Linked DNA regions of Homo sapiens. The protein of the gene in region 4 interacts with the protein of the main gene of each other region in a biochemical or structural test. Each region holds a gene or a part of one and is shown on either strand. Other genes may lie near its edges. The genes, in order: OAS3, DHX58, EIF2AK2 and EIF6.

Region 1 (7,543 bases), on a different chromosome or scaffold from region 4:
CTTCCAACATTTCATTAAGAAAAATTTCCAAGCAAACAGCCACATTGAAAGAATTTTGCAGTGAACACTCATATACTCACCACATAGATTTTACAATTAACGTTTTATTGCACTTGCTTGATTGCATATCTACAATTTCTTCATCCTTCTATCCATCCATGAATCCATCTTATTCTTTTGATGCATCAGAAGATTCTTTTTCTGCCAGGCATGGTGGCTCACACCTGTAATCCCAGCACTTCGGGAAGCCAAGGCCGTTGGATCACCTGAGGTCAGGAGTTCGAGACCACCCTGGCCAACATAGTGAAACCCCGTCTCTACTAAAAATACAAAAATTAGCCAGACATGGTGGCACACACCTGTAATCCCAGCTACTCGGGAGGCTGAGGCAGGAGAATTGCTTAAACCTGGGAGGCAGAAGTTGCAGTGAGCCGAGACCACACTGCTGCACTCCAGCCTGGGCTGTCTCAAAAAAAAAAAAAAAAAAAAAAAAAAAAAGGAAGGAAGGAAGGAAGAGAGAGAGAGAAAGAGAGGAAAGAAAGAAAGAAAGAAAGAAAGAAAGAAAGAAAGAAAGAAAGAGAGAAAGAAAAGAAAAGAAAAGAAAAGAAAGAAAAAGAGAGAAAAAGAGAAAAAGAAAGAAAGAATATTCTTTTTCAAAAAGAAACCAGCAGCAATTTCTTCCCGGGCCAGTACAAGGTGGTGAGTGAGTTGACTAAGCAGACAGGCAAAAAGAGAGAGAGTATCTGTAGGAGGATACTGTCACCTTTTATATATAGGCAATAAGCAATAGTTTTCCAAGGAGAACAGCAGATGATTTGCTACTGTATCAACCAAGAATATATTTGACCGTAGTAAGTAACAGAATGTGTAACAGACATTCTGAGTCATTTTGTTACACCCACAACTGTGGGTGACCTGTCCAGATATGCCTTCTAATTCCAAGCACCCCAAGAAAACCCCTGTGCTTAAGATTTTATCTAGCCATGAATCCAACATTTTCTATTTGCTTATTAATTTTTTGTCCATCTTCTCTCGTTAGAATATAAATTCCATGAGAGCAGAGGCCTTTTCACTTATTCACCACACATGTTCTGTGCTAGACCAGTGGCTACCATAAAGAAAACACTGAATAAATATTTATTTATTTATTTATTTATTTTATTTTTGAGCCAGAGTTTCACTCTTGTCATCCAGCCTAGAGTGCAATGGTGTGATCTTGGCTCACTGCAACCATTGCCTCCTGGGTTCAAGTGATTCTCCTGACTCAGACTCCTGAGTACCTGGGATTACAGGTGCCTGCCACCATACTCAGCTAATTTTTGTATGTTTAGTAGAGACGGGGTTTCACCATGTTGGCCAGGCCAGTCTCGAACTCCTGACCTCAGGTCATCCACCTGCTTTGGCCTCCCAAAGTGCTGGGATTACAGGCGTGAGCCACCGCACCTGGCCTTAATAAATATTTATAAGAATAAGGAAAGGATCTGTTTTCCACATCTCATAAGTTGTCTTTTATACCTTTCTTTTCTATGTTCTGCTTTCCTGTAATCTCGAGTAATTTCCTCCATTCCATCTTCCAGTTTACTGATTTTATCTTCAGGTATATTTATTCAGCCTATCTATGGAGAAGGTTCGGTTTTTCTGTTCATCTTTGGTTTTATTTTGCATTATGTTTTCACTTCCAATGTGATAGTGGTGATTGTTGACTTTCATCACTGTTCTTATTTCATGGATATGATGAATAATCATGAATACAATGAATAATTATAATGGATATAATATCTAATCCCTCTGAGGATATTAATTATATATTTCTAAGACCGTATTAGTCCAATTTGTACTTCTAAAACAGAAAGCCACAGACTGGGAAATTAGTAAAGAACAGAAATTTACTTATCACAGTTCTGGAGGCTGAGAAGTGCAAGACCAAGGCTTCAGCAGGTTAGGACCTGGTCTCTATGCTTCCAAGATGGCGCCTTGAAGAATGTTGTGTCTTTTGGAGGGGAGGAACACTATGTCCTCACATGGCAGAAAAGCAGAAGACAATGAGCCCATTCCTCCAAGCTCTTTTCACAGTGGCCATAATCCACTCACGTGGGCAGAGCCCTCATGACACAAACACCTCCTGTTAGACCCCACTTCCCAACTGCTGCATTGGGGAGTAAGTTTCCAACACATGAATTCTGGGGGACAAATTTAGACCACAGAAGACTCTTTCTCCTTTATTGATTATTTCAGTGTCCTTACATGTGAGTTTTTATGTTCATAGCATTGGATCTCCCAAAATAATTTGGCACCTTTGGATGTGTGCTTTTTGCTCACTGGGGATGTTCTGCTTGTCTCCCTGTGAAGTTGGTACCTTCTTACTGCAGCTGGAGGCAGAGATGAGGAAAGGGGATGTGCCAGGAATGAGTCTTCTGCATACAGGACTTCCTGTTCTTTCCAGATGTGGCCAGGTATGCTGTGTACTTCCCTGCCTCTCTGCCCCACCCTCACTGCTCCCTCCTTAGGCAGGCACCTCTGCTGCCTGTTACTCAACACAGAAAGGTTGGGGCGGGAGACCACATGTCTTTAGAGGCTGCCATTACTATGCCAGCACAACTGACAACCATGAGAGTTAACCTAGGGTCCCTTCTTTTCCTTCAATCCACTGCCTGGAGCCTGCAGCTCCTCAGAGCCTTTCCACTCTGCATAGGTACCCCCTCCTTTATGTGTTTTGGCTGCAATTTCCTCCTTCATCCAGTCTCATATCTCTGACAGGGATCTCAGATTCCAGTTTACCTGGGACACCTCTGGTTAGGACCCAGCAACATTATTAAAGTTTTTCTATCGCTTTCCTGCCACCTCTAGAGGCCTGGGATGGACGTTGAAGGCTTATGCATATGTTCAGTCCACCATCATGACCCAATATTGACCCTTCTGCGTTCCATCTTCTAAAAATGCCTCAAATGTCCCGCCCCCTTGACTCCACTTTTTCTCAGTTTCCAACCCTGTTGATTTCCATTATGCTTTTAATATATCTTTGCTGCTATTTTAATAGAATTTTGAGCATGTGTTCAATCCACTATCTTGAATGGAAAGTTTCTAAAGTGGCCTGTGACTCAGGAAGAAGACTGTGATTAATGGGCGAGAATGAAAATCATTGCTCAATCCCTTGACTTAAATCCCCACCACAACACCTGACCTACAAAACCTGCCCATACTTGAATATTCCAAGTGATGCAGCATTCACTACTCAAAATATTAGCTGGTGTACATATTACAGACCCAGCATCTCTCCCTCTAGTTGACCATGACCTCTGAAATTCACACTCTGATCCTATCTATTTCCTTTCAGTTACCGTGCAGATGTCAGGAAGCACTTGTTAAGACTATTACCTGAAGTGTACTCAGAGGCAGAGTAAATGCTGGGTCCCGGAGCAGACAGGAGAGAGGACCTGGGAGTTTTTTAGTAAGATGGGGAGGAGGAGATAGGCTATGGCTTGGACCAGGCCTGGAAGAGAGCTCAGGTGTGCAGTCTCTAGGAACCCGGGTGGAGAAGCAGCAGGAAATAAGCAGAAAAAGGAGACAGGCCATGAAGATAGAAGCGCAATGGTCCTGGATTCAAATCTCCACTCTGCAGCTTATAGCTTACAGTCCGCTTAGCTTTGTGCCCATTCCAAGAGGATTTCCCTATTGTAGCTTTACAATGTTTTAATATGTAGTATTGTTGTGCAAGGTACCATCCTAAACTGACTGACTTTCCTTCCTCCTTCTCCTCCAAAATAATTTTTAATTCTTGCAGACAGACTTTAGATCGTGTGTTTGAAGTTTTTAAAGATGGAATTTTTATTGGAACTGCATTACACGTATAAATTATTTAGGAAGAGTTGGCTTCTGAAGAGGGCAGCTCTGTGGGCTTGGGCTGGGTTTGAATCCAGCCAGACAACTTTCCAGCTGTGTTACCTTGGACAGTTACCTAGTTCCTCTGTACCTTGACTTCCTCATCTGTCAAATGGGTGATGATAATAGCACCTACACCATGGTCGTTGGGAGGAGTCAGTGAGAGTCTCCAAGTGTGCTTTATTATCGTTGGTGGTGGTAGTGGTGTTTAGAACGCATCCCTCAGTCAGACAGCGAGGTAGGACTTCTCCGTTTATTAAATCCTGACCTTTTTTTTCCATGTAAAACCTGCACGTTTCTGAAATGCTCAGAGTACGTTACTCAGTATGTACCCATATGTTCTGTGGGTATACTTTGTTAGGTTGTGATTAGTTCGTTGGAGCTGGTGGTTGCAGGGACGGCTGGAAGCAAGGAGATGAAGGAGAGGAAGTCGTAGCTGGGAAGGGGACCAGGAAGTGGGTGTCAGGTCCAAGAGCTGCTAGAAAGAAACGAAACTGAAAGCAGGGAATTTCCCAAGTTTGGGGAAGACAGGAACTGCAGCGCCCCTCCCCGTTTCACGCCACGCGCGGGACCGAGGACCTAGGACCTGGCCAGCTGGGCGTGGTTCGGAGAGCCGGGCGGGAAAACGAAACCAGAAATCCGAAGGCCGCGCCAGAGCCCTGCTTCCCCTTGCACCTGCGCCGGGCGGCCATGGACTTGTACAGCACCCCGGCCGCTGCGCTGGACAGGTTCGTGGCCAGAAGGCTGCAGCCGCGGAAGGAGTTCGTAGAGAAGGCGCGGCGCGCTCTGGGCGCCCTGGCCGCTGCCCTGAGGGAGCGCGGGGGCCGCCTCGGTGCTGCTGCCCCGCGGGTGCTGAAAACTGTCAAGGTGAGGTCCCACCTCGGGGTCTTTATGTGTCCAAAGGGGAGTCCTGGGAGGACGCTTAAGCCTCACATAGGCTTACGGTGGGGGTGGCTTTATCCGCTTGTGCACCTCATTCATTTCTTTAACAAATACTTCCAATGTGCCAGCCCCGTGCTAACTCCCCCGAACATACGAGCCAGGTAGGTACTCTTAAGCCCGCTTGACAGATAGAGAAAATGAGGCACAGAGAGGTACAGTGACGTGTCCGATCCTGTAAGAGGCCCAGCCAGGATTCAAATCCAAGTAGCCTGATTCCTGCATCTCTACTCTCAGAGGCTGCTTCTTATCCATTCATTCACTCATTCACTCATTCTCCCAGTCATTCAAACAGACTGTGGGCCTCACACTATGCCAGACCTTAAGGTTACAGAAGTAATAACACTCCGCGTAACAGCCAGAGTAGCCCAATTTATTGAGACATTATCAAATAACAATGAAAATTATCTCATTAAATGAGTATTACCTCATTTCATCCCCACGTTCAGTGAGGCAGGTATTATTGTACCTGTTTTATGGATAGGGAAACTGAGGCTAGACGCTAAATTACTACTCTGAGTCACATCTTTTTTTTTTTTTTTTTTTTTTTTTTTTTTTGAGACAGGGTCTCGCTCTGTCACCCAGGCTGGAGTGCAGTAGCATGATCTTGGCTCACAGCAACCTCCGCCTCCTGGGCTCAAGTTATTCTCACACCTCAGCCTCCCAAGTAGCTGGCACTACAGGTGCACACTACCATGCCTGGCTAATTATTTGCATTTTTTGTAGAGATAGAGTTTTGCCGTGTTGCCCAGGCTGGCCTGGAACTCCTGGGCTCAAGTGATCCACTTGCCTTGGCCTTTCAAAGTGCTGGGATTACAGGTGTGAGCCACCATGCCCAGGTAATTTTTGCATTTTTTGTAGAGACGGGATTTCACCATGTTGCCCAGGCTCCGGGTCACTTTTTGTCACTTAAATACAGCCACACTGCCACTGTGATCCCAGGACACTCGCAGATTCAGGGAGGAGACAAGTCATGAGCTACCTTATCCTCAGGGTAGATTTGGGGGTGCCAGGAGTGGATTGATGGAGGGAACCTGGGTGTGCTAGAGGAGGTTGTCAGGAGAGGGAGTGAAAACGCAGAGTAGAAATGGCCTCAGAGCACCTAGTGGTTTCCTGGGGCTGACTCTCAGCTTGGGAGGTGGGGAAGGAGGAGACACTTGTCGCCTAGGAGGTGTGAAGTCCCGTTTCTACCTTGGAGATGGACAGGAGGGATTTCTGTGCAGCAAGGGAAAGCCCTGGCATCCTTAGCTTCCCTGGAAAGGGGTGGGAGGGGGTTCTGGAGCACAATCTCCCTGTGCTTTCATTGTCTCCTTTGTAAAGTGAGCACGGTGCAATCTCCCTGTGCTTTCGTTTCCTCTTTTGTAAAGTGGTACCTTCCTTCTGGGGCTGTGAGGAAGGTTCAATGAGATGAGAGTGTGCAAAACGTGCAGGAAGTGCCCAGCCTGTAATATTCCCTGTTCCCACTTTGTCAGCAGCCCCCAGATGGTGGGAGCTGGTAGTAAAAGGACTGGCATAATCATCGGGATAAGTAGGGGGTCCCAGTTTGAGGCAAGCCTTGCTCCTGGAGGGCTCCATCCTGGTTCTTGCTGTTTACTGGCTGTGTAACTCATTTCACCATCTGAGCCTCACTCCCCATATCTGCAGCCACATGTAACTACATCACAGTTGTTTTGTGTTGGAAGTGAGATTAGAGACGTCAGATCCCAGACACAGAACAGTGGCTCTGACAATGTTTAGGAGTTTCTTTTCCAAATCCTCAGGTTGGAAGCTTTGCCGAAAGAAACACTAATCACACAGGTCTCAGAAATTGAGTCATACCACAGTTCTGTACCCATTCTGAGCAAAGATTGCAAATGTGTGTTCTGCAAAGCAGAATTTGTTTTACCTGCGGTCTTGAGTTTTTAAAAAGTTAGTTGCCAACATTTAAAAATCATGGATATAGGCCTGGCATGGTGGTTCATGCCTGTAATCCCAGCACTTTGGGAGGCCAACGAGGGCAGATCACTTGAGGTCAGGAATTCGAGACCAGTCTGGCCAACATGGTGAAACCCCATCTCTACTAAAAATACAAAAATTAGCCAGGCATGGTGGCGCACACCTGTAGTCCCAGCTACTCAGGAGGCTCAGGTGGGAAAATCACTTGAACTCATGAGATGGAGGTTGCAGTGAGCTGAGATGGTGCCACTGCACTCCAGCCTAGGCAACAGAGTAAGTCTCTGTCTCAAAACTAAAAATAAAAATAAAATTACAAGTATGGATTTAGCCCAGCACGGTGGTGCATGCCTATAGTCTCAGACACTTGGGAGGCTGAGGCAAGAAGATCACTCGAGCCCAGGAATTCCAAGCTGCAGTGAGCTACAATCGTGTCTGTGAATAGCCACTGCACTCCAGCCTGGGCAACATAGCAAGACCCCATCTCTTTAAAAAAATGTAAAAACTAGCCAGGCATGGTAGCGTGTGCCTGTAGTCTCAACTACTTGAGAGGCTGAGGCAGGAGGATCACTCGAGCCCAGGAGTTCAAGGCCGCAGTGAGCTATGTGTTCCAGCCTGGGTGACAGAACAAGACCCTGTTTCTATGGAAAAAAAATCATGAGTTTACATGTTAAAATTGCTTCTCTTGAAATCTCGAGCCTGGCTACCCTGGGCCCACATTCCCGCGTGGCTTCAATGCCTACAGCCATGTGGCCACAGTCTCTCCCCAGCACACTTGCCTCACTCAAGTTGC
Region 2 (7,035 bases), on a different chromosome or scaffold from region 4:
TATTTTTAGTAGAGGTGGGGTTTCACCACGTTGGCCAGGCTGTCTCAAACTCCTGACCTCAGGTGACCCGCCCGCCTTGGCCTCCCAAAGTGCTGGGATTACAGGTGTGAGCCACCATGCCTGGCCGGTTCTATTATTCTTTTACTGGTTTATTATCTGCCTCTCCAACTCCAATCTGAGTTCCTTTGTATCCCCAGTGCCTAGAACAAGACGGGCACAGAGAGGGCGAGCAATATTTGAGTAGACGAATGCCCACATTCTCCTGTCCTCAGCTGGGATCCATCCTGCCCCAAATCTTTGACCATTGTCCCCACAGACCCTCCCTTTCCAGTAAAGTCCTCTGTTGCCCCCAGCTCTGTGCCAACTTGGACACGTGGTGCATCATGTCACCCCAGAACTGCTGCCCCCAGCTGCAGGAGCACAGCCAACAGCCTTGCAAACAGTACAACCTCTGCCACAGGCGCAGCCAGGTACGCGGGGGCAGGGACACGGCGAGAGCGGGAGCCGGTGTGAAGTTAGGACACCTAGGCTTGGGCCCTGACTCTGCCCTCACTAGCTCTGTGACTTCAGGTCACTTGCTATGTATCCAAGCCTCAATTTCTCCTTTCTGTGAAATGGGGCAGATACAGCCCATGCCCACAGCCCGCTCTTTGGATTGACTCAGAAGGCACCACTGGTGTCTGTCACATCACTGTCATGCTGGGGAGTGCACTACAAACCAGAGAGCAGGGATACTTTGTGCTGAGGCTCTACTGAGCCCTCTCTAGTGTGGACACGGCCTCGTGTCTGCCATGACTGGACTGGACAAGGACTAGGTGTCAGGTCCATAACTATACCAAATGTTACACTTGGGGTCAGGTTTGAGCCCATGCTGTGGTCTGGAGGGAGGGAGTGAGTGAGCAGATAGCTGAAAGAACCCTTGGGGGGCCATAGGCAGGTGAAATGTAGTTTTATTCAGCAGCGGCTCTCTCACACTGTCCACCTTTATCTGGGCTGTCTGCTCCGGCCCTGTGGCTCCTGCTGCCCCCACGCCTGCAGCTGCTCTCCCTGGCCGGCAAGGCCAGCTCTGTCAGGGTCAGCAGCTTAACTCTTTCCCTCTGGGCACAAGCGGGTTCCTGGCTCCCCACTGCCCACCTTCAAGGCGACCGGCTGTCCCTTGCAGGGGTTAGTAGCATTATTCTCTCTCTGGGCGAGCAAGCGTGCCCTGCCGTGCCGAGCTGAACCAAGCTCCGTGAACAGCGTCAGCAGGGCAGTTTTACCTTCTACTGACAGTAGAGTCCAGTATGAACTTACACAAACAGGTTATATAGCAAGTGGAGTACGTGCCTGCCCCCCAAACTCGCTGAGTCACTCTGGCCCGGATGTCCGCCTCGGCCTATTCCTTGACCAAAGCACGTCCATGTGCCTTACACTAGGCATCACCGTGCCCAGGCCAAAGGGTAAGAGCACATCGCGGGTGAGACAGGGCAGGACTCCCCCACACCCTAGCCGGCCTCCCTCTGGAGCTCACACCACAGCTAAGACAGATGGGTGAGGCAGTCGCGGTGTGCTACACGCCGGGGTCAGCACCCCCACTGGGTGCCCATCCTCCAACGTGTATGGGAATCCCCTCCAACTCTCCTCTTGCTCAGGATCCGTTTGGGGACTTGCTGAAGAAGCTCATGGACCAAATCCATGACCACCTGGAGATGCCTGAGTTGAGCCGGAAATTTGGGACGCAAATGTATGAGCAGCAGGTGGTGAAGCTGAGTGAGGCTGGTGAGAGGGGCAGCCCTTCTGGCGGAGGCGAGGATGTGGGAGTGGTCAGGGGCGGGGCCTGCCGGGGCGGAGGCCTTTGGGGCGGGGCCTATCCACCCCAGGGGTGGAGTCGAGTGGGACGGCCCTATGGGGCAGGGCAGGGGGCGGGGCTGTGGGCTGCTCAGACCCTGCGCCCTCTTCCCGCAGCGGCTTTGGCTGGGCTTCAGGAGCAACGGGTGTATGCGCTTCACCTGAGGCGCTACAATGACGCGCTGCTCATCCATGACACCGTCCGCGCCGTGGATGCCTTGGCTGCGCTGCAGGATTTCTATCACAGGGAGCACGTCACTAAAACCCAGATCCTGTGTGCCGAGCGCCGGCTGCTGGCCCTGTTCGATGGTGAGGGGCGGGAGGGGGCTTCGGGGCCGGGGATGATGGGACCTGGATGCGAGGTCAGAGGCCAGGGCACAGGCGCCAAGGTCGGATGGGAAGGTGCCCGTGAGGATACTGGTGGAGATCCTATTTTTCTAACCAAAATCCAAGGCCATGGGTAGGACTGATTTATTTCCTCATTTGTGAAGGTTTTTGCTTAGTTGTTAAAATTAATTAACATTGTTGACTTTTTTTTTTTTTTTAATAGTCGGGGTCTTGCTCTGTCACCCAGGCTGGAGGACAGTTGTGCAATCATAGCTCACTGCAACCTCGACCTAATGGGCTCAAGTAATTCTCACCCTTCAGCTTCCCAAGTAGCTAGGCGTACAGGTGGGCACCACCACTCCCAGCTAATTAAAAAAAATTTTTTTTGAAGAGGCGGAGTCTTGCTTTGTTGCCCAGGCTGATCTCTAACTCCTGGGCTCAAGTGATCCTCCTGCCTCTGCCTCCCAAAGTGCTGGGATTACAGGTGTGAGCCACTGTGCCCGGCCCAGATTTTTTAAAAGGATTAGCTAGGAGTGGTTCCTTTAGACTGAGAGAGTGAAGCTGAAAGTCAGAGGGTGAAATTTAAGGTTGCAAATCGCAGCACAGGCTGGGGCTCAAGAGATCTGGGTAGCAGAGGTCAGAGTTAAAAGCTCAAGGGTCATCCTGGTCACTGGGGAGAAGAGGGTTCTGGTCTGAGGTTCTGTACTGTATGACCCCGGTGTGAGGCTGGCCTTGAGAGTGGGCTCGGTAGGAGGCATCCTTTTTTGTTTTTGTTTTTGTTTTTTTGAGAGGGAGTCTCGCTCTGTCGCCCAGGCTGGAGTGCAATGGCACCATCCCAGCTCACTACAACCTCCCCCTCCTGGGTTCAAGTGATTCTCCTGCCTCAGCCTCCCGAGTAGCTGGGACTACAAGTGTGCATCACCACGCCCAGCTAATTTTTTTGTATTTTTAGTAGAGACGGGGTTTCACCATATTTGTCAGGCTGGTCTCGAACTCCTGACCTCAGGTGATCCGCTCACCTCACCCTCCCAAAGTGCTGGGATTACAGGCGTGAGCCAATGCACCCGGCCAGGGCATCCTTAAATATGTTCTTGGTGCTGCTGTGGGGGAGTTGAGCAGGAGTTCCATCCTTCCCCCACCCCCCACCCCCCACCTTCTGCACGCCTACAGTCCTATTGCTGTGAGAACCTCCTCCGCCAGTGCCCTCCCCACTCCAAGATCTGAATCCTCTGCCTCTGGGGCTTTTCTTCTTTCTCTTTCTTTCTTTCCCTCCCTCCCTCCCTTCCTTCCCTCCTTCCCTTCTTTCCTTCTCTCTTTCTCTCTCTCTTTCTTTTCCTTTTTTTCTTTCTTTCCCTCCCTCCCTTTCTTTCCTTCTCTCTTTCTCTCTCTCTCTTTCTCTTGCTTTCTTGCTTTCTTTTTTTTTTTCCCAGACAGAGTCTCACTCTGTTACACAGCCTGGAGTGCAGTGGTGCAATCATAGCTCTCTTCAGCCTTGACCTCCTAGGCTTAAGCGATCCTTCTGCCCTCAGCCTCCCAAGTATCTGGGACTACAGACATGTGCCACTACACCCAGCTAAATTTTGGGGTTTTTGACAGACCGCAAGAATGAGCTGGCCCACTTGGCAACTCATGGCCCAGAGAATCCAAAACTGGAGATGCTGGAAAAGATCCTGCAAAGGCAGTTCAGTAGCTCTAACAGCCCTCGGGGTATCATCTTCACCCGCACCCGCCAAAGCGCACACTCCCTCCTGCTCTGGCTCCAGCAGCAGCAGGGCCTGCAGACTGTGGACATCCGGGCCCAGCTACTGATTGGGGCTGGGAACAGCAGCCAGAGCACCCACATGACCCAGGTGTGGGCTTCGGGGAAAGATGCTGGCGCTGGGAGGGATTCCATAGGAGAGAAGTGCGGGGAACAGGGTCTTCAGCACAGAGAGGTGGGGGCAGGGAGACCCTGGGGAAAGAGAAAGTTGACTATCCCCAGGCAGAGGGGCAAGGAGCTAGGGGAGAGGGGCGGACACTGACCTCCCCAGTGCTGGAGCCTCTCCCAGTCTGGAGGTCCTTGGGGGCAGAAGGTTGGGCATGGGGGTCCGTAGGGAAAGAGGTGGGTGATGCAGTTCCTCAGGGCACAGGATCAGGTCTGGGGTCCCTTGCAGAAGACTATGGCTTGAGAGTTTTTCCTAGACTAGAGGGGCAGGGACCCTTAGGAGTCCCTAGGGAAGATAGGGGTTGGACAGTTACCTGGGAAGATGGGCAAGATCCTGGGGGTACCTGGGGATAAAGATGGGATTCAAGTACTCTAGGGAGATGGACCAAGATTGGGAGTGAGGGCTGAACCAGAAGAGGCTACTCTGGCAGGTGGAGTCAGTCTGAGCCTCCTCATGTACCAGCCTCTTTCTCCTCCCTGCCCTCCGCCTGCAGAGGGACCAGCAAGAAGTGATCCAGAAGTTCCAAGATGGAACCCTGAACCTTCTGGTGGCCACGAGTGTGGCGGAGGAGGGGCTGGACATCCCACATTGCAATGTGGTGGTGCGTTATGGGCTCTTGACCAATGAAATCTCCATGGTCCAGGTACTCACATCCTCCTCCACTCAGCCGCCCTTATAGGATCCTGTGTGGGGCCCCAGCCCAACTCAGGACACCCCTTGTCTCTCTTCCCAGGCCAGGGGCCGTGCCCGGGCCGATCAGAGTGTATACGCGTTTGTAGCAACTGAAGGTAGCCGGGAGCTGAAGCGGGAGCTGATCAACGAGGCGCTGGAGACGCTGATGGAGCAGGCAGTGGCTGCTGTGCAGAAAATGGACCAGGCCGAGTACCAGGCCAAGGTCTGCAGGCAGCCTGCATGCCCTGTGGGAGGGATGGGGAGGAGGGAGCCCCTCCCTGGCAGGTTTCTGACTGCACACATACGTCCCCCTGTCCCCTCTACATCTCGGGGCTAACTTTGGCCACCTAGGGAAGGTTTAAATAAGGGCCGGGGTGGGGCTGCCAGGGAAGGCAGTACCTGGACTCCAGAAGGCCTTGGGAACAGGCCTTGTCCAAGGCTCTTTATTTATCTTTGCCATGAGATACTTTATGTATCTGGAAGAGCTGCATTACAGCCTTTCTGGAACCAGGCAGAGGGGACAAGATAAGTCCACGTGCAGAAGATAAGCCCAGAACTAGGACTTATATCATCAGTTCCCCTGAGGCAGGGCCACCACCATCCTGCCTTGTCCAGGGTGCTCCCTGTTGTCCCAGCATAATTGTTAATGATGCCCCATGACAGATTCACAGAAGCAGCTTTGCCTAAAGTCCTTCAAGATTGAGCAGGAAAGCTTACCCCTCCCACTGTTGCCCCCGACTACTCATACTGTTTTTCTCCATAGCTGTTTTTTTTTTTTTCCCCGAGACGGAGTCTCACTCTGTCACCCAGGCTGGAGTGCATGGCACAATCTCCACCTCCTGGGCTCAAGCAATTCTCTTGCCTCAGCCTCCCGAGTAGCTGGGATTACAGGCATGCGCCACCATGCCCGGCTAATTTTGTATTTTCAGTAGAGATGGGGTTTCACCATGTTGCCCAGGCTGGTCTCGAACTCCTGACCTCGTGATCCACCCGCCTTGGCCTCCCAAAATGCTGGGATTACAGGCATGAGTTACTGCATCATCACAGCAATAGAGCTTCTTTTAAGCTCCAGGGAGGGTTAAGGAAAGTCTCTTCCAGGTACAAATGATCTTAGTTCTTTGGGAACCTTTTGTCCCCCAAGGAACGTTCTCTTAGGCCCCAGCCATGCCTGGTGTCTCCTCCCACCCCAGATCCGGGATCTGCAGCAGGCAGCCTTGACCAAGCGGGCGGCCCAGGCAGCCCAGCGGGAGAACCAGCGGCAGCAGTTCCCAGTGGAGCACGTGCAGCTACTCTGCATCAACTGCATGGTGGCTGTGGGCCATGGCAGCGACCTGCGGAAGGTGGAGGGCACCCACCATGTCAATGTGAACCCCAACTTCTCGTGAGACCTGTGGAAGGGGCTACTGGGATGGGGGCCTGGGAATCCTTCCCATCCAGACAGTGCTTTGAAGCTTTGGGAAGCTAAAGAGCATTGTAGCAAGTACTTTGCATTTTCACAATAATCTGGTTAGACAGGTTTTATCCCTGTCTCCATTTTACAGGCAAGGAAATAGAGGCTCAGAGAGGCTATGTGACTTGCCCAAGTTCCCACAGCCACTATCTGGTTGAGCAAGAACTGGAATTCAGGATACTAAGTGTCAAAAGACCACACATTGACCCTCTGGTCCTACCTATTCCGAAGATATCAAGAGAGCTTGGCCATCCCTGGGCCATCCTCCATCCACTATCTCCTAGAGAGTAACCTTCCCCCATCCTCCATCCATTCATTATGTTACCCTCTGTGTTCCGGGCCACTGTGCCAAGGATCTTCACACAGATTTTCTCAATTGAGGAGGTTGCATTTCAGCTAGGTCTCAATGGGTCTGGTTTGAATGTGAGCGAATGAGAAGGTAACCATGGAGGGCCAGGTGCAGTGGCTCACGCCTGTAATTCCAACACTTTGGGAGGCGGAGGTGGGTAGATCACTTGAGGTTAGGAGTTCAAGACCAGTCTGGCCAACATATTGAAACCCCTTCTCTACTAAAAAAAAATACAAAAATTAGCTGGGCGTGGTGGCCCATGCTTGTAATCCCAGCTACTTGGGTGGCTGAGGCATGAGAATCACTTGAACCCGGGAGGCAAGCCAAGATCGCACCACTGCACTCCAGCCTGGGCAATAGAGTGAGACTCTGCCTTTAAAAAAAAAAAAGCGACACCAGTTGACCTGAGTGGAAGGGACTGTGAATAATGAGATTTAGAAAAAGACAGACTAGCCCGTGGAAGATTTGAAAGGTCAGGTGTGAAA
Region 3 (7,035 bases), on a different chromosome or scaffold from region 4:
AAATGCTCCGTATTTTAAAAACCGTGGCACCAGATAGAACCTATCATTACCCACAAAATAGGTGATCTTTGAGATGTTCTAGTCTTACCTTCTTATTTTATAGATGAGGAAACTAAGATCCAGAGATGTGAAGTGATTTTGTCTAAGATAAAAGCTAGATGGTAATTGTTCTCTGGTTGTCTGTTATTGTATAAGGCACTGCTCCAAAATGCAGTGCTTAAAAACAGCAATTTATTGTTGTCTCTAATGGTTCCATGGGTTGATTGTGCTCATCTGGACAATTCTCACTTGGGGTCTCAGAGGGATTTGCAGTCAGTAGTCATCTGAAACCTTGACTACAGCCTATCTTAGGCTGGATATCCAAGCTGGCTAGCAGTTGACACCGGCTGTGGGCTGGAAGTTCAGCTGGGACTGTCAATCAGAATACCTCCACATGGCCTCCCTATGGGGATTGGGCTTCTTACAACTTGGTGGCTGGGTTTCAAGAAGGATTGTCCCCAGAACAAGTCATCCAAAAGATCAGGAGTGAGTGGCAAGGCTTCTTTTGACCTAATCTGAGGAGTTCCAGAACGTCACTACCATCAAGTTATATTGGTTAAACAAGTCACTGAAGCCAGCTTAGATTCAAGGGGAGGCCAAATAGGCCCTACCCCGTAATTTGTCATTCTAGGGGATGAGTTCTAAGAATATTATTTAGGGACTGGGTGTGGTGGCTCACGCCTGTAATCCCAGCACTTTGGGAGGCCGTGGCAGGCGGATCACCTGAGGTCAGGAGTTCGAGACCAGCCTCACCAACATGGAGAAACCCCTCTCTACTGAAAATACAAAATTAGCTGGGTGTGATGGCGCATGCCTGTAATCTCAGCTTCTCGAGAGGCTGAGTCAGAAGAATTGCTTGAACCCGGGAGGCGGAGCTTGTGGTGAGCCCAGATCATGCCATTGCACTCCAGCCTGGGCAACAAAAGCGAAACTCCCTCTCAAAAAAAAATAAAAATAAAAATAATAAAAAGAATACTATTTAGGGAGGCTGAGGTGAGTGGATCACTTGAGCCCAGGAGTTTGAGACTAGCCTGGGGCAACATGGCAAAACTCCACCTCTACAAAAAATACAGTAATTAGGCCGGTGTGGTAGCCACGCCTGTAGTCTCAGCTACTTCAGAAGCTGAGGTGGGAGGACCATTTGAGCCCAGTAGGTGGAGGCTGCAGTGAGCCATGGTCACACCACTGCACTACAGCCTGGGTGACAGAGTGAGACCCTATCTCCAAAAAAAAAAAAAGAATGTTATTCAAATTATGGATTTATATCCAAGAAGATATAAATCACAGTGTCATTCATTAACAGTAAAAAGTTAGAACAAACAAAATATCCAGCAGTAAAGAAATGAGTATATATATTTTGTTCTGTCCCCTGATCGATGGCTGTTTTGCAGCCATTAAAAATGACTGGCTGGGCCAGGCATGGTGGCTCACGCCTGTAATCCCAGCACTTTGGGAGGCCAAGACAGGCAGATCACGAGGTCAAGAGACTGAGGCCATCTGGCCAACATGGTGAAACTCTGTCTCTACTAAAAATACAAAAATTAGCTGGGCATGGCAGCGTACGCCTGTAGTCCCAGCTACTTGGGAGGCTGAGGCAGGAGAATCGCTTGAACCCAGGAGGCGGAGGTTGCAGTGAGCCAAGATCGCGCCATTGCACTCCAGCCTGGGCGACAAAGCAAGACTCTTCTCAAAAAAAATGACTGGCTGGGTGCAGTGGCTCAGGCCTGTAATCCTACCACTTTGAGAGGCCAAGGCTGGTGGATCACTTGAGGTCAGGAGTGCGAGACCAACCTGGGCAACATGGAGAAACCCTGTCTCTACAAAAAATATAAAAACTAGCCAAGTGTGGTGGTGTGTGCCTGTGGTCCTAGCTACTAGGGAGGCTGAGGTAGGAGGATCGCTTGAGCCCTAGGGGTGGAGGTTGCAGTGAGCCAACATTGCCACTGCACTCCAGCCTGGGTGACAGAGTGAGACCCTGTCTCAAAAAAAAAAGGAAGAATCTAAAATAACATTATTTTAGGATTGTCAAAGTATCAGTAATTTTTTTTATTTTTGCAAATTTGTGTCATATACTTTAAAACTTCTTGCATTAAAAAATAAAATTGTAAAATGATTATTCTTCCTCATCTTTGAAATCTCCAATTTATTTACTGCACTTAGCATGGAATTTTCTTAGGTCTTGGCAACACATCCCTGTAAAGCCTTCCACCATTTCACCTTCTCTGCATAAGTTATCCTCTTTGTGTATATTTGCCACACATTGAAAATCCTGAATTAGGTACTTCACACTGCCTGGGTTACCTAGCCTTGCTGCCTAAATGTGGTTTGCTTGTGAAATACAAAGATTTTAACACAAATCTAAGCAAAACATAATGTATGATTTAGCTATGAAAAATTGCACTGGCTGGGTCCATTGGCTCATGCTTGCAATCCCAGCACTTTGGGAGGCTGAGGCAGGTGGATTGCTAGATCCCAGGAGTTTGAGACCAGCATGGGCAGCGTGGCAAAACCCCATCTCTACAGAAAATAGAAAAAATTAGATGGGTGTGGTGGTGTGCTCCTGTGGTCCCAGCTACTCAGGAGACTGAGGTGGGAGAATTGTTTGAGGCTAGAAGGTTGAGGCTGCAATGAGCCAAGATTGTGCCACTGCACTCCAACCTGGGTGACAGAGCAAGACTCTGTCTCAATAAAATAAATAAATTAATTAAAATGACATCACTGGCATTTCAAGAGTACTACAGATGATTTTTAAATTGTCTGATGCTTGGCATTAAGTCGCTGCCTTTTATTTATTTATTTTTTGAGACAGAGTCTTGCTCTTTTGCCCAGGCTGGAGTGCAGTGGTGCAATCTTGGCTCACTGCAACCTCCGCCTCCTGGATTCAAGCGATTCTCCTGCCTCAGCCTCCCAAGTAGCTGGGATTACAGACATGCGCCACTGTGCCCAGCTAAATTTTTTGTATTTTTAGTAGAGATGGGGTTTCACCATGTTGGTCAGGCTGGTCTTGAACTCCTGACCTCGTGATCCGCCCACCTTCGCCTCCCAAAGTGCTGGGATTACAGGCCTGAGCCACCGCGCCCGGCCACTGCCTTTTATTTTATCTTGAGAGTGAGAACTGCTATGTTTTTTTTCAGTATGTTCACTTTTTCCTTTTGAATGTCCTGGCTTCCATTCTAAAACTATGTGAGAACCACAGCAATGGTTTAATAAGGGAATGTAGACAGTTGTCTATTACATGAGGTGTTTTGTGGTTGTTATGAGGGATGTACACTGACACTGCCATGTTCCCTGTTCCTTTTAACTAGGAAGGCGGAGCGTGAAGTAAAAGCATTGGCAAAACTTGATCATGTAAATATTGTTCACTACAATGGCTGTTGGGATGGATTTGATTATGATCCTGAGACCAGTGATGATTCTCTTGAGAGCAGTGATTATGATCCTGAGAACAGCAAAAATAGTTCAAGGTAACTAAAAATAAATTCTCATAGCCATAATAGGATGGAAGGAAATTGTTATTTACTATGTATGGGCCACTGGATAAGGCTATTAATCATCACGATTAATTATCACAATTCCCTCTGAGAGACACTGTTATCTCTCCATTCCGAAGGTAAGGAGAAAGTGAAAATCTCTTCCTTGCTCCTCCTCTTGCTGCAGACTTGCTCTCACAACCCTCTGTTACATCCTCAGCTGTCTGCAAAATCTCAGGTTCAGCTTTCCTGACTCCATTGTTTCATGGAGAGCCTTGTTCACGTGCCGGCTTCAGCGCAGGCTGTTTAAGTGTAGTCTTGTGAAGAGAGTTTTAACATATAGATGCTGCATCTGGGGGCTCCCTCCTCAGCTACCAACACTTTTCTGTCCCTCTCTTAGGCTGTGATTGGTGTGGTGCCGTCAGAGGGTCTCTTTGGAATGTAACTATACCACTTATGCTGGGGTGGTGGGGAGTGAAAATATTTTTAAGACCACAAGCTGAGATGGGGGCACCCTCATGTTTTATGTCAGTTAAGCCATTGCCAAACAACTGGAGATCCTAAAGAGCTGGCATCTGTCTTTGAAAGTCACCCAACCTATTATGGGGACAGTCCTCTCACTAAAATCCTGAGGCCAATGGGGTCCCATTCATTCATTTTCTCCTGCCCCACCTCCATCTCCATGTCGTGTAAGTGAGAACATTATCATCAGTTCAGGAGTTATTGACCGTCAGCATACAGGACTTCAGCTTTCAGCAAATTCTTGGCTACCTCTTCCTGTTTTCAAGCTGACATATATACAAAGAATATAAATGAATATTGAGGCTAACTTAATTCAGAAAAAAAATAAAACGTGGTTAGCAAAAAAAAAAAAAAAAAAAATCAAGCCTCCAATTTATGTATCTTAGTAATTTGTTGGCACTTCTCTTAGAGTACCTTCCCTATTGTTTTAGGTTTGCTTTCCCTTTACTCTCTCCTATTAGACTATTATCCCCGTGACGGCAAGGATATAGTGTCTAACTGATTTTCTCATCTCTAGGTGCCTTTCATGCTTAGTAGATCAATGGTGAATTAAAAGGTTTCAAAGTTACTTTATATAATAATGAAATTTAGTTTCCTGCATTGTATTCATGTTCCTATTTCTATCTGTTAGCAATGGTGATTGCAGATCTTCAGCAATGAAGAATGGGTGGCTCATTTTTTTTTTCTTCTCGTTTTTTTTTTTTTTTTTTTTTTTGAGACGGTGTCTCGCACTGTCGCACAGGCTGGAGTGCAGTGGTGCAATCTTGGCTCACTGCAAGCTCTGCCTCCCGGATTCACAGTATTCTCCTGCCTCAGTCTCCTGAGTAGCTGGGACTACAGGCGCCCGCCACCACGCCCGGCTAATTTTTTGTATTTTTAGTAGAGACGGGATTTCACCGTGTTAGCCAGGATGGTCTTGATCTCCTGACCTCGTGATCCACCCGCCTCGGCCTCCCAAAGTGCTGGGATTACATGCGTGAGCCACCGCGCCCGGCCTCTTCTTTTTTTTTTTTTGAGACAGAGTCTTACTCTATCGCTCATGCGGGAGCACAATGGCGTGATCTCAGCTTACTGCAATCTCTGCCTTCTGGGTTCAAATGATTCTCGTGCCTCATCCTCCCGAGTAGCTGAGACTACAGGTGCCGCGCCACCACACCCAGCTAATTTTTGTGTTTTTAGTAGAGATGGGGTTTCGCCATGCTGCCCAGGCTGGTCTCAAACTCCTGAGCTCAAGCAATCCGCCAGTCTCGGCCTCCCAAGGTGCTAGGATTATAGGCGTGAGCCACCGTGCCCAGCCCAGCTCATATTTTATAAATTAGCTAAACAAATAAAGCTCTGGACATCCGGGAACTTATGATTGAAATAAAAAATGGCCTATTATATTTTGATTCAAATTTGTTTATTATATTTAGATTTCTATTTTGTGACATGTTTTGGGGTTCTTTTTTTTTCTTTTTTTTTTTTTTTTTGTGAGACGGAATCTCGCTCTGTCACCCAGGCTGGAGTGCAGTGGCGTGATCTCGGCTCACTGCAAGCTCCGCCTACCGGGTTCACGCCATTCTCTTGCCTCAGCCTCCCCGGAGTAGCTGGGACTACAGGCGCCCGCCACCACGCCTGGCTAATTTTTTGTATTTTTAGTAGAGACGGGGTTTCACCGTGGTCTCGATCTCCTGACCTCGTGATCCGCCCGCCTCGGCCTCCCAAAGTGTTTTTGGGGTTCTTAAGAAGATAAGGTATAAGCTTTTAAAAAGTTATGAAAAACTTTAAAAAGTTATAAAAAATTTTTTATAAATTTATATTTATTGTTACTTTTAACATACTGTGAATTTTATACCCAGGTCAAAGACTAAGTGCCTTTTCATCCAAATGGAATTCTGTGATAAAGGGACCTTGGAACAATGGATTGAAAAAAGAAGAGGCGAGAAACTAGACAAAGTTTTGGCTTTGGAACTCTTTGAACAAATAACAAAAGGGGTGGATTATATACATTCAAAAAAATTAATTCATAGAGATCTTAAGGTAAGTGGAAAATGTACTTTATTAATTGATATATATATAATATAGTAATTTTAAAATATATCTTCTCAGCTGGGCACAGTGGCTCACGCCTATAATCTCAACACTTTGGGAGGCTGAGGCAGGCAGATCATCTGAGGTCATGAGTTCGAAACCAGTCTGGCCAACATGGTGAAACCGTGTCTCTACTAAAAATACAAAAATTAGCTGGGCATGGTGGCGTGCGCCTGTAATCCCAGCTACTCGGGAGGCTGAGGCAGGAGATTCGCTTGAACCTGGGAGGTGGAGGTTGCAGTGAGCCAAGATTGTGCCACTGCACTCCAGCCTAGGTGAAGAGTGAGACTTGTCTCAAAAAAAAAAATTATATATATATATAAAATAAGATAGATAGATATATATTTTTTTCTCTAGTTTTAGAATAGTGGTTGATTGATAGTTATGAGAAAATGGTATCTGAACATTTCCATGCAAATAATTACTGTGACTGGCACAGCCAACTGGCTGCTCTGCCCCTGTTCCTCCTGCCTCCTCTAAGTGACTCAGCTTTATTTGAGAGGCAGAGGGGACTCTGTTGACTGTTGCTTTAGGAATATGGTTCCCTAATCTCTCAGTCATTACTCGCGAGGGCTGTCACAGCTACTGGGTCCAGAGTCTAATACTGTCTTGGTTAAGCATTTCAACCCCATGATTGGAAAATTGCGGTAATCCCGGACTGGGAAAGTGTATCATCCCTTAGTATTTTCATTTTCCTCTGGCTTTTATGGTCCGGACAAGGAGTTTCCCTATTTTTTACTTCTCATTAAAATGACAGAAGGTGAGAGACAGAATAGCCCTTCACAGCCTTTCCTCCATTCCCTATTCCCTGTGACTTGCCTAAGCCTGTCACAAGCTGGCCGTCCTGAATCCTGTCCCTGGACCTTTGCTCATGTTCTTCTCTCTCATGGGACACTCTTCTGCCTGCCCCCTTTGGTTGTAATTCCTTTACTGA
Region 4 (3,390 bases):
AATTGATGACTTGTAAAAATTTTAGTCATTCTGGCTGGGGGCAGTGGCTCACACCTGTAATCGTAGCACTTTGGGAGGTCGAGGTGGGCGGATCACCTGAGGTTAGGAGTTCGAGACCAGCCTGGCCAACATAGTGAGACCCCATCTCTACAAAATCACAAAAAGTTAGCCAGGTGTGGTGGCACGCACTTGTAATTCCAGCTACTCAGGAGGCCGAAGCAGGAGAATCACCTGAACCCAGGATGCAGAAGTTGCAGTGAGCTGAGATCGCACCACTGCGCTCCAGCCTGGGTGACAGAGTGAGACTCTGCCTTAAAAAATAATAATCTAGCCATTCTGCTATGTGTGTAGTGTTAGCTCAGTTTTTTTTGTTTTTTTGTTTTTTTTTTTTGGAGACGGAGTTTCGCTCTGTCACCCAGGTTGGAGTGCAGTGGCGCGATCTCGGCTCACTGCAAGCTCCGCCTCCCGGGTTCACGCCATTCTCCTGCCTCAGCCTCCCGAGTAGCTGGGACTACAGGCGCCCGCCACCACGCCTGGCTAATTTTTTGTATTTTTAGTAGAGACGGGGTTTCACCGTGTTAGCCAGGATGATCTCGATCTCGATCTCCTGACCTTGTGATCTGCCCACCTCAGCCTCCCAAAGTGCTGGGATTACAGGCGTGAGCCAACACGCCCGGCAGCTCAGTTTTTAAGTAGCAAAATATACAGCTAATGCCAAGAGCTCAGCTTCCCTCCCAGTTGGTGATGGTGAAGTAGGCAGGATTTATTGGGATTCCTGGGTGGTCTCTGGCCTGCCCTGGGTGTTTTCCAGATCAGTGGGTTGGAGGGCTGGGCTCTGGGCCTAAAGCTTTCCTGGGAAAGCTGATTGGGCTGGGCTGAGTGGTATCCTCAGCCCCTAGGGCTCAGCAGGCATCTTGTGTATTCACCCTCTAATTTGGGTTTCTCCAGGGAACAGGCACGGTCTCCTGGTACCCAACAATACCACCGACCAGGAGCTGCAACACATTCGCAACAGCCTCCCAGACACAGTGCAGATTAGGCGGGTGGAGGAGCGGCTCTCAGCCTTGGGCAATGTCACCACCTGCAATGACTACGTGGCCTTGGTCCACCCAGACTTGGACAGGGTGAGGCAGCCCAACTTGACCCAAGAGTCACAGGGCCATCCTAGTCAGTGGTTAGCCACTGTTCTTTCCCAACAGGCAGCAATTAGGGGTCTCTCCTGTGGTTTTTCTATATGGGCTCTTGAGTTTCAGGTACTCATTGGAATAGTGATAACAGAGGCCTTATCAAGTGTCAGAAAGAAGCTGGGGAGGGTATGAATCCTTCATGATTGGGGAGATTGAACCATCCAGTCCTGCATCCTGGGCCAGGATAGGTGATTGACTGTTGAACTTTTGACTGTGGGTGAGAGGGGAAAGAAGTGATATTGAGACCAGCCTCCAGCTGTTCAGGGCATGCATGAATATTAGGGGCTTCACAGCTGCCCTTGACTCTGCTCTAAGCTGTACTTCCTCCTTTCTCTGGGTGAGGCTTTCATATGAGGTACAGAGGAGAAATGAGGGGCTCAGGGAGCCAAGGCCTGGATGCTTCTGGGCATGGAGAACCTTGGTTCTGGGGCTGTAAGTTCTGAGCCCTGAACACAATATCTTTGATTGACAGGAGACAGAAGAAATTCTGGCAGATGTGCTCAAGGTGGAAGTCTTCAGACAGACAGTGGCCGACCAGGTGCTAGTAGGAAGCTACTGTGTCTTCAGCAATCAGGGAGGGCTGGTGCATCCCAAGACTTCAATTGAAGACCAGGATGAGCTGTCCTCTCTTCTTCAAGTCCCCCTTGTGGTAAGCATTCCTGTCCTCTGAACCCCGTCTCCCGAGGCAGATCCTTTTGCCTAGTGTTTGGGAGTCTGGGTCATTACCTGCCACAGTTTGGGACTGGGGCTGCAGGTCAGGGAGGAGCAGGGTTTGGGGAGAGTCTTCATTGAGGAGGGAGAGAATTTGGTGCCGTGACTCACATTGAGCCCATCCCTTGGCAGGCGGGGACTGTGAACCGAGGCAGTGAGGTGATTGCTGCTGGGATGGTGGTGAATGACTGGTGTGCCTTCTGTGGCCTGGACACAACCAGCACAGAGCTGTCAGTGGTGGAGAGTGTCTTCAAGCTGAATGAAGCCCAGCCTAGCACCATTGCCACCAGCATGCGGGATTCCCTCATTGACAGGTACCTGGGGCCTCTCCTTTCTTCTGCTCAGGGTTGGGGGTTAACTTGCATTTTGAGAGTATGGGGAAAAGATGTCATCTAGAATGGGAGCCTACCAGTTTGTTCTGGTAGCTTCTCGAGTGTGAGAGCATATCTGTACACTGCTGAGCAGATAAGAGCCAGCATATTCAAAAAATATTTCTTGAGCATCTGCTAATCCTCATCTTTGTGGTTTTTCAGGGCTAGGATACTAGAGCAGTAGCTGCTTGAGCAGCTTGTCAGAGCTGGTCCCGGGATGAGGGCTGAGGCAGGCACCTCACTTGAGAGTGAGGTGGGCTCTGTGAAACAGCTACTGACCGTGCGCTTTCCTTTCTCTTCAGCCTCACCTGAGTCACCTTCCAAGTTGTTCCATGGGCTCCTGGCTCTGGACTGTGGCCAACCTTCTCCACATTCCGCCCAATCTGTACCGGATGCTGGCAGGGAGGTGGCAGAGAGCTCACTGGGACTGAGGGGCTGGGCACCCAACCCTTTTCCACCTGTGCTTATCGCCTGGATCTATCATTACTGCAAAAACCTGCTCTGTTGTGCTGGCTGGCAGGCCCTGTGGCTGCTGGCTGAGGGTTCTGCTGTCCTGTGCCACCCCATTAAAGTGCAGTTCCCTCCGGGCCATTCTGAATGTGATGTTTGGGGCCCTCAGCCTGTGTACAATCCCTGCACTCTCCAGTTGTTCCAGCATTCTGGGAAGATAGGGTGGGATGAACACAACACACACCCAACCCAGTTCACCACCTCCACACACGCCATTCCCTTCTCCTCTACCATCAGGATGTGAGGCTTCATCCTGGGGCAAGAAACACTCTCCACTACAGTTCTCCTTTTTTCTTTTTTCTTTTTGAGGCAGTGTCTCCCTCTGTCACCCAGGCTGGAGTGTTGTGACGCAAGGATGGCTCACTGTAGCCTTGACCTGTTGGGCTCAAGCGATCCTCTCGCCTCGTTTATTTTTTTGTAGAAACGAAGTCACTGTGTTGCCCAGGCTGGTTTATACTCCTGAACTCAAGCGACCCACCGCCTCGGCCTCCCAAAGTGTTGGGATTACAGGCGTGAGCCACGGCGCCCGGTCTAGTTCTCACAGTTTTCACCCGACTTCTGCGCCGGTCTTCTCTGGCCTTGAAAGGCAGAGAGTCCGTTCCGATTTTCCC

Evidence for each region.
Region 1: the proteins of EIF6 (region 4) and OAS3 form a complex in vitro, tested with the Homo sapiens proteins (one study listed by BioGRID).
Region 2: the proteins of EIF6 (region 4) and DHX58 form a complex in vitro, tested with the Homo sapiens proteins (one study listed by BioGRID).
Region 3: the proteins of EIF6 (region 4) and EIF2AK2 form a complex in vitro, tested with the Homo sapiens proteins (one study listed by BioGRID).

The regions. Positions count from the first base shown.
Region 1 is NC_000012.12:112,933,962-112,941,504, forward strand, and holds the start of OAS3 (2'-5'-oligoadenylate synthase 3), read left to right. Parts: upstream 1-4,512; 5' UTR 4,513-4,569; coding exon 4,570-4,746; intron 4,747-7,543.
Region 2 is NC_000017.11:42,102,705-42,109,739, reverse strand, and holds part of DHX58 (ATP-dependent RNA helicase DHX58), read left to right. Parts: intron 1-353; coding exon 354-470; intron 471-1,631; coding exon 1,632-1,758; intron 1,759-1,944; coding exon 1,945-2,136; intron 2,137-3,750; coding exon 3,751-4,004; intron 4,005-4,572; coding exon 4,573-4,722; intron 4,723-4,812; coding exon 4,813-4,974; intron 4,975-5,941; coding exon 5,942-6,132; intron 6,133-7,035.
Region 3 is NC_000002.12:37,118,974-37,126,008, reverse strand, and holds part of EIF2AK2 (interferon-induced, double-stranded RNA-activated protein kinase), read left to right. Parts: intron 1-3,344; coding exon 3,345-3,503; intron 3,504-5,869; coding exon 5,870-6,050; intron 6,051-7,035.
Region 4 is NC_000020.11:35,278,388-35,281,777, reverse strand, and holds the end of EIF6 (eukaryotic translation initiation factor 6), read left to right. Parts: intron 1-948; coding exon 949-1,124; intron 1,125-1,659; coding exon 1,660-1,836; intron 1,837-2,030; coding exon 2,031-2,212; intron 2,213-2,571; coding exon 2,572-2,581; 3' UTR 2,582-2,860; downstream 2,861-3,390. UniProt on the Homo sapiens protein: Binds to the 60S ribosomal subunit and prevents its association with the 40S ribosomal subunit to form the 80S initiation complex in the cytoplasm. Behaves as a stimulatory translation initiation factor downstream insulin/growth factors.